Regions from separate parts of the Homo sapiens genome. Here region 2 is linked to region 1. A link means that fine-mapping ties the variant in region 1 to the expression of a gene that starts in the linked region. Tissue or cell type: skeletal muscle. Region 1 holds a variant in brackets; the other region holds the start of a gene. All regions are shown on one strand. Distances are between the middles of the regions.

Region 1 (4,000 bases):
TTGGCTCACTGCAACCTCTGCCTCCTGGGTTGAAGCGATTCTCCTGCCTCAGCCTCCCAAGTAGCTGAGACTACAGGTGCACATCACCACGCCCGGTTAATTTTTGTATTTTTAGTAGAGATGGGGGTTTCACCATATGTTGGCCAGGCTGGTCTCGAACTCCTGACCTCAAGTGATCTGCCCGCCTCGGCCTCCCAAAGCACTGGGATTACAGGCGTGAGCCGTGCCAGGCCTTGAAATGCATCTTGAAATGATTTAATACTGCAAATATGGCATCTCTGGCCAAACCCATCACTGACCTGCCCACCTCTTCTCGGACTCCTCACTGGCTCACGGCAGGCAAAGCCAGCACACAGGGTGATTTTTCTCTGCCTCCAACACACTCTAGTTCAAAAAAGTAGTTTGTGTGAAAGCTCCAAAAAAAGTTTCAGGAATCACTGGGGGCAAATTAAGTTTCAATCATTAAATTATTGCTTTGCTATAATATCTGTATTTACCCTGAAATTCCCATTACAGAAAAAGATTAGAGGAAGACACAGAAAAAAAAAATTTAATATTCAACATGCAAAACAACCTTTAAAAGAAACATGAAATCATAAAGCAAAGCTAACAGCCAACCAACAAATACCGCCTAGCAATGATTTCCACTGGATGTGGAAGAGGGTTAATAAAGACGCTGTTGGTAACGCGTACAGAACTATCACTGGCAATCAGCATACTGAGCTATCCAGTGGAGGCCAGCATCGTGTTTTTGCTAAAATACATGTTGTAGAAGTCATAATTCATAGTGAAGAATCTCAACAGGTTTTCTTACAGATTTAATTACTCTCACACAAATAATTCATTTGGAAACCATAAAAGATACCTATTTACACCTAAACTGCCTGGCCTTCCAGAGCGGGGACTAAAGGGGCAGGGCGGGGAAGAAAGCGAGCGTGTCGCGGGCTCTGTGGGGTTGCAGGGTCACTGTTATTTTGATCTGCTGAGCTCAAGGACTGGAAACGGAATAAAAACGCCTACTCGCCTTAGGCAGGATAAGAAGTTGTAAACTCACCCATCAGCAGCTGCCTCCACTTCTGAGGCTCCCCCTGCGGGAGGAGCTCTGAACCCAGCCCTGAGGCCACTCGGTGTCCCGAGGAGTGCTCCAGGGCTCGGAGAAGGGGCTCAGGGGTCCTTTTGCCACTGAGGATCAAGCCAGCCAGTGAAAAAGAAAAAACAAAAGCCCCAGCAGGTGCCCATCACCCGGCTCCCAGGGGTCATCTGCAGAGTCACGTGGCACTCTGGCCACTGCTGAAGAGCTGCTCTCCCTCGAAGGGCAGTGGCTGCCCCCTCCAGAGGCTGCTTCCATTCAAGCTCAAGGGCACGTGCCTTTCCTTATCTCGTGGAGTGTCCGTCCTATCAGGTGGTTGTTTGTAAAACAAAAGTACAGTCATTCTGCTTTCTGATACAGACTAGAGCAAGAGGACAGGAAGAACCAGTGGGCTGTCAAGAGACACTTGGTTTTTGAAACAGGACATGAAAGCAAATCCCACCTAAATTCAAAAATTGAGGAAAACGTCAGTGAAACCTGTTAAGTTCGCTAAAAAGTTGGCAGATGTTTCGTATGTCTTTAAAGGATTTTGGCCAACAACTTAAAACCACCATATTAGGACATGGTCCAGGCAGTCATTAGAATATACTGGCTGCACAGGGCCTTTCCTCTGGGACATCTTTTAATGAAAAAAAAAAGTTTTACTTTGTTCTTCAAAAGTCTTCTACTAACTAGTCTATTTATGATTAAAACAGCAAAAACAGATCCTGGTTTGAGTGCAGGTACATTCTTTGGGGGAGGGCACCTCAGGAACATGCATTTATACCCTTCCTGTGACTCCGTGTAGAGGGAAGACTAACTCACAGTCCATAAGAATCCAAAAGTGAGCGGCGACTTCACTCAGCAACCCATCCTGCCTCCAAGCTGACTTGGCTATAGAGTATCTTGCGTCCTTTTGTTCTCTTCTGACTACCTGTCACTCATGTTTTAAATAATCTTCTTTTGAAATAATAAGCCTTAGCTGGCTTTGCAGGCAACTAGGCACTTCCAGCAGGACATGAGAATGTAAGATGGCCACTACC[G/C]GAACTTACAGGTGCCAAAAGAAGAAAGGGTATAAACGGAGACCACCTATCACTCATCAGAACCTAGGATCATCACATTCCTTTAAATGGAAAAGCCCACCCTACAACTTTCTTTTTAATGTTCTAAAAAGTGACACCTAGGTTTCCTCAACAGAAAGCTGTGCTTCAATCCCAAATCCCCTTGAGACCAACATGCCTTAAAGGGGGTTTGGGTTTAAAGACCAATGTATCTTTTTTTTTTTTTTTTTTTTTTTTTTTTTTTTTTTTTTTGAGACAGAGTTTCGCTCTCGTTGCCCAGGCTAGAATGCAATGGCGTGATCTCGGCTCACTGCAACCTCTGCCTACTAGGTTCAAGTGATTCTCCTTCCTCAGCCTTCCGAGTAGCTGGGATTACAGGTGCCTGCCACCATGTCCAGCTAATTTTTCTATCTTTAGTAGACATGGGGTTTCAGCATGTTAGTCAGGCTGGTCTTGAACTCCTGATCTCAGGTGATCCACCCATCTCAGCCTCCCAAAGTGCTGGGATTACAGGCGTGAGCCACTGCGCCCAGCCCCAATATGTCTTAAAGGGGGTTTGGGATTAAAGTACAGTTTTCCGCTGAGGAAACCTAAGGTCTTAAAGGGGTTTTGGGATCAAGTGTCCTGTTGAGGAAAACTAGGTGTCACCATGCATTAGTCTTCCCCGCATTACACAAAAGGCAGGTGTGTTCCCAGAAAAATTAAAGATGGTCTTACAAGAAGTACAAATGTGCCAACACCAGGACTTTGGGGACCCTGGTTCTGGCCCTGCCACTTGTTACTCTATTACTTTATTCCACATGTCATCTGTTACTTTGGAAAAACAAACCTGGGAGTAACACCTTACTGTCTGGTTCTCAAGTGGCTAAGTGGCTCTGAGCAAGTTTTAAATCCGGCATCGCAAGTACCCTTTGGAGAGGGATTTAGGGCCTGAGAAAGGCAGACTCCACCGAGTGTCTGTCCATCTGTCCGGACAGCACCATGTGGCTCAGCATGCAGGCCAGGCCGCGTGCCTGGGTTTGACTCCCATCGCCGGCCCCTGCTGTTAGTTCCGGACAGTTCCTTGGTGCCTGTGTGCTGGTTTTCTCGTCTGTAAGATGGGGTCGGACAGGCAGCTGCACATGGTAGGCGCTGTGTGTCGGCTATGAAACCACCAGCCCACCGCGTGCCCTGTTCACATGCCTTACAAATTGAGGGCTGATCTCTAAAATAGCATGATTTGTACACGTTTCTGTGACCAGCGAGCCCTTTCACACATCACTGTGACTGGTCCTCATGGTCACCCTGTGAGGGGGGCAGCATTTTTGCCATCTTACAGACGGGGAGCCCAGCTTGCTCTGAGCCATCCAGCAGTGCTGGCCAAGCCTCCGAGCTTGGCCAAATGCTGGCCCCAGAGGAGACAACCTTCTCCCGCCCCTCACCTCTGAGAACAGAGGGCGGGCCGCTGTGCTCCTCACAACCTGGACTGCCTCATCTTCCCACGGACGAGCTGTCAGGGCTGTGTTTCTCCCAAGATCCCCAGAACAACCAGGGGAAGAGTTCCTGAAGAAATGGGTGTATTTTAGCCACATGGACTCAAACTTGGAAGCAGCATTTGGCATCCCCGGAGAGCACTCAAATGGGGCTGGACCATGCTCGGGGCTCCCTGAGGCTCTGTCCCCACACTTTGGGGCATGACATGACCTGGCTCTGTGCTGCCCTAAGACATGGGTTTAGGAACATGAAATCGTGCAGAGCTGAGCTGTCAGGCCTGAGCAGACACTGCTGGGGGAGAGAGAAAGTTCACATCCCCCCACCAAGCACGGTCTCAGATTAGGTTATTACAAAGGGCGAGGGGGAGGAGGGCATCCCAGGAGTCTAACATCCAACC
Region 2 (4,155 bases), 47 kb after region 1:
TTGCGGGAGGGGCTGCCTAGAAGAGGAGAGAAGGTGCTCACAGGTAAAGGTGGTCAGAGGACAATAGGTGTGTGTGGACAGGGGAGTGGGGAGGGACTGCTTGAAGCTGCTGAGCAAACAGGGCCAAGTGACCTGCAGCAGATGGTCCTTCAGATGCATCCCAGCTCAGATATTCGGTGCCAGCTGACAGGTGGGCCTGCCACGGTGGCACACAGTAGGTGCTCAATGAATGTTTGCAGAATGAATGAATAAGCACGCTCCAACTTCTGCTCAAAAGTAAATCTTGACACCTTTTCAGAAAGAAACCATTGAAACCTTGTCAACCATTGAAGTTCTTGTCCATTTCACTTCATAAGCACCCCCCACCCCACCCCTGCATGAGGAAAGGCTCGCCTGGGCAGGCTAGGCTGGGGCCTGCTCACTGGGAAGCCTCCCATGCTAAGCCTGCCTCCTACAAAAGGGATTCAAATTTACTTCCTCTCTCCACTCCAGCCTCCAGGGTGTGGCCTGCTGAGGGGCCCTGAATGCCTGGGACTGCCATGTCCCTGCAGCTGTGTGACCTTAGGGGGATGCACTTGTTCTCTGGGACTCAGTTTCCCCAACGGTGAATGAAGGGGTGAATCTGGAAGGCTGACATTCCGTACTCAGCAATGCTGTCACCCCCTCAGAAATCCCCAGCCTAGCCTGGGGGTGGGGTGGGGGGTGGCTGACAATGTGGTATGAAGTCATTCCCTGCACGGAGGAGGGAGGGGTCTTTTCCATGGAGAAAATGACGAACCTGAGACGACAAAAGAGGGGGCTTCTCCTGGGCTTCAGTCTGGGCATGATCCATCAGTAATGGATTACCTCACTGGCTGGGAGACCCCACCCACACCTGCAGTCCCAGGCCCTTCCAAACAATACGAGGCACCCCCATCCCACGCCCCCCAGCAGATCCATGACTTAAAGCCCAGAATCACACCGAGAGGCAGCAGGCCCTGCCCCTCAGCCAAGCGGGCGGGTTCGGGGGGCCATTGCCCAACAGGTCCCTGGATACAGCTAAGGGATGAGAGGGGCCGGTGGGTGCGGAAAGACAAAGGCTTCGGGTAGCAGGAGACAGTGGCCAGGGCACGCTCGCAGCGAGGTCCACCCAGAGCCCAACGAGGGCCCGACCCTGCCGCGCTGGGCTAAGGGTGTACCCAGATCCCACGCCCACACTCCCTACCGCGGTGCTGAGGGCCCGGGGCGGGCTTCCTGGAGAAGGAAGAAGACCCGCAGAGACACGAAGAAGAAGGAGGAAGATGAGACAGACACCCGGACGGACTGACAGGGGGAGACGCCGAATGAGACCCGGGCACAGGGGTGCGGGGCGCTCGTCGGACGGAAAGCAGAGACAGACCCAGATGCAGGGACGGTGGGGGGGGGGCCATGGAGGAAGACAGGGTACCCAGGCAGACCCAGAGACCACGACACCCGCGCAGAGACAGAGATGCGCGGGGCGCACAGAAACACGGACGCGCAGAGGCGGCCCCGGAGACGCTCACCTCTCCCGGCCCGGCCTCGCCCCCGGGTCCCACTCACCGAGGCCGCAGACCTCGCGGCGCAGGCTAAGACGGCCGCGCTCCTCCGCTATGGCACGCAGCATGTGCTGCAGCGAGCGCTCCTCGGCCTCGGCGCCGCCCGCAGGCTCGGGGGCGGCGGCGGCGGGGAGGGCGGGCGGCCCGGCCCGCAGCCCGCCGCGAGCACCAAGGAAGCCACAGTCCGCCTCTGTGCGCGTCGCCGTCGCCGCCGCCGCCGCCACCACCCGCCAAACACAGCACCGGCGAGCGCACCTCCGCGCCGCCGCCGCCCGCGCGCCCCCGGCTCCGCTCGCCCCGCCCCGGCCCGGCCCGGCCCCGGTCCGGCCCCGCCCCTTCCCCGCCCCGGCCCCGCCCCTGTCCCCTCCCGCCCCGCCTCTGAACGGCCCGGACCCACCCCGGCTCCCTGGCCCCGCCCCCTGACCTCCCTTGCCCCGCCCACTTCCAAACGGCCAGTCTCCGCCAATCTTCGGATGCCCAGGACAGCCTCCCTCAAACCGCTCGCGGGGTCCCGCCTCCACCCAAGGTCCTAAACGCCCCACCAACGGGATCACGCCTCTGAGCCCCTCCCGCCGCCCCTTCAGGGCACCTCTCCCCTCCCCCGCTGCTACCCCACGGGATGTGTACTTTGTCACCCGCCCTGTGCGTTGCCACCTCCACCAAGTCCCCTCGGCTGACTTCTGGGAACTTCCTCCGCAGAACCCCTCAAGAGGTCACCTGCTCCCAGAAGGTGGTCTCCTGGGGGACACCGTGGCAAAGCCCTTCCGGCCCCCCTCCTCTGCACCTGGCACAGTGCAGAGTGTTGCGCCTCCATTTCCTCAGCTGCACCATGGGGGACCTTTCCCTGCCTTGCCTCCCCAACATGGGGGAGTGTTGATGAAGGGGGAGGTATGAGGTTAGCTGGGCGTGTCATCCTGATGAAGCCAGGTCTGGCCAGCATCCCTCCGTGTGCTAGTTGTGGCTGATACAGGAAGACACCGGAGAAGCAGCCAGTGGCCTCCCCAAACCTCACGCCTGGTGGTCCATTTCCAAGAACAGGGGGAGATGGAGAGACCAGCATTGATTTCCAGGTCTCTCCAAAGCTAAATCTACATCACTCCCTGCATTCACAGCCTGTGTGTGGACCCCAGACCCATCAAGGTCCCCCTTTCCCCTGTCTGGAGTCCTCTTCTCCCCATTCCTGTGTAACTTGCTTCCTTTGTGTCCCGAGTGTCACATCCTCAAAGAAACTCCCCTGACCGCCTTCCCTCCCTCTCTCTTCCCTTAGTCTGTTTCTCCTTCACAGGGTGACACTTACCTCCTCCCGACACATTGGATACCTATGGGTTCACTTGTTCTCTTCTCTACCGAGGGAGGGGCCTGTCTACTACACAGCTGTTGTCTCAGTACCCAGAACATTGCCTGGCACACATTAGATGCCCAATAAATAGATATGGGCTGCAGGCTGGGCACAGTGGCTCATGCCTGTAATCCCAACACTTTGGGAGGCCGAGGTAGGTGGATTGCCTGAGGTTAGGAGTTCCAGAACAGCCTGGCTAAAATGGTGAAACCCCATCTCTACTAAAAATACAAAAATTAGCCGGGCATGGTAGCACACATTTGTAATCCCAGCTACTCTGGAGGCTGAGGCAGGAGAATTGCTTGAACCTGGGAGGCGGAGGCTGCAGTGAGCCGAGATCCCGCCACTGCACTCCAAGCTGGGAGACAGAGCAAGACCCTGTCCCCCCCCAAAAAAAAAGAAAAGAAAAGAAAAAAAAATGTAGGCTGCATAAACGAAGAATGATGGAGAGGTCTGATGGGGACGCAGGGGTCTTCCTGGGAGGCACAGCAGGAAGGAGCCGTGGGGTTGGGCAGAGCCCCAGAAGGGAGATGGGATCTGGATCCTGCTTCAGGCCTCTGCCCCAGTTTTGTGCCACTGGCCCCTGAACTCTTCAGAGCAGAGCCACATCTGACCCCTCTGTGTCCCCAGTGCCAGGCCCAGGAGGGCTCTGTAGAAAGGTGAGCAGTGAGGGAATGAAGGAAGTGCGCGACCAGCCTCACGTGTATTTCTCTTCTCCAGTGGGCCTGCATCCCTGTCTGTAAAGTGAGGACACTGGCATGAGGGCTGAGGCCTCTGGTTCTGCGTCTGGAGAGCTGGGGTTTGGGCTGGTGGACGTGAGAACTGGGGATGGTGGATCAGACAGCATGAGCGAGTGCTCCAAGGCTGTCAAGTCCAATAGTCACATCCCTCTTTGCCTCCCCAAACCCCACAGCACCCCCTGCCTGTTCCCACTGCCATGCGTTTGCCCACAGTGTTCCCTTGGCCTGAAATCCTTTCTGCTCCGCAACTGTAGTTGCCTTTGGGACCCACATTGCCTGGTTACGCTTGGCCAATGCATTGTGTTCTTATTTGCTTCACAAACCCCCTTTCCCCACCCCACCCTCCTGCACACAGTTGCCTCCGTGTATTCTGTGTCATATGACCAGCATTGAACCAATTCATCCCACTTCCCGTGGCACCCAGCCCAGGACTGGTGCCAGAAAAATATCTGTTGAATGAATGAGTAAACAAACATCGCTTGGGCTCTCTCCTTTGTATTTCAATAATACTCCAGGTATT

Evidence for each region. PIP is the estimated chance that this variant, and not a neighbour inherited with it, causes the effect.
Region 2: it holds the start of KIAA0930, and the variant in region 1 is fine-mapped to the expression of KIAA0930 in skeletal muscle (GTEx, PIP 0.97).

The regions. Positions count from the first base shown.
Region 1 is chr22:45,191,710-45,195,709 of GRCh38, forward strand. KIAA0930 reads right to left here. Exons shown (of 10, transcript NM_001009880.2): 10 at 535-4,000. Among named protein-coding and RNA genes, the nearest start is that of MIR1249, 7.3 kb to the right of the region's middle. The variant G/C (reference allele first, on the strand shown) is at 2,113.
Region 2 is chr22:45,239,080-45,243,234 of GRCh38, forward strand. KIAA0930 reads right to left here and starts at 1,815. Exons shown (of 10, transcript NM_001009880.2): 1 at 1,561-1,815. The coding sequence starts at 1,624. RefSeq lists silencers at 1,389-1,478, 1,629-1,688, 1,849-1,908, 1,939-2,138.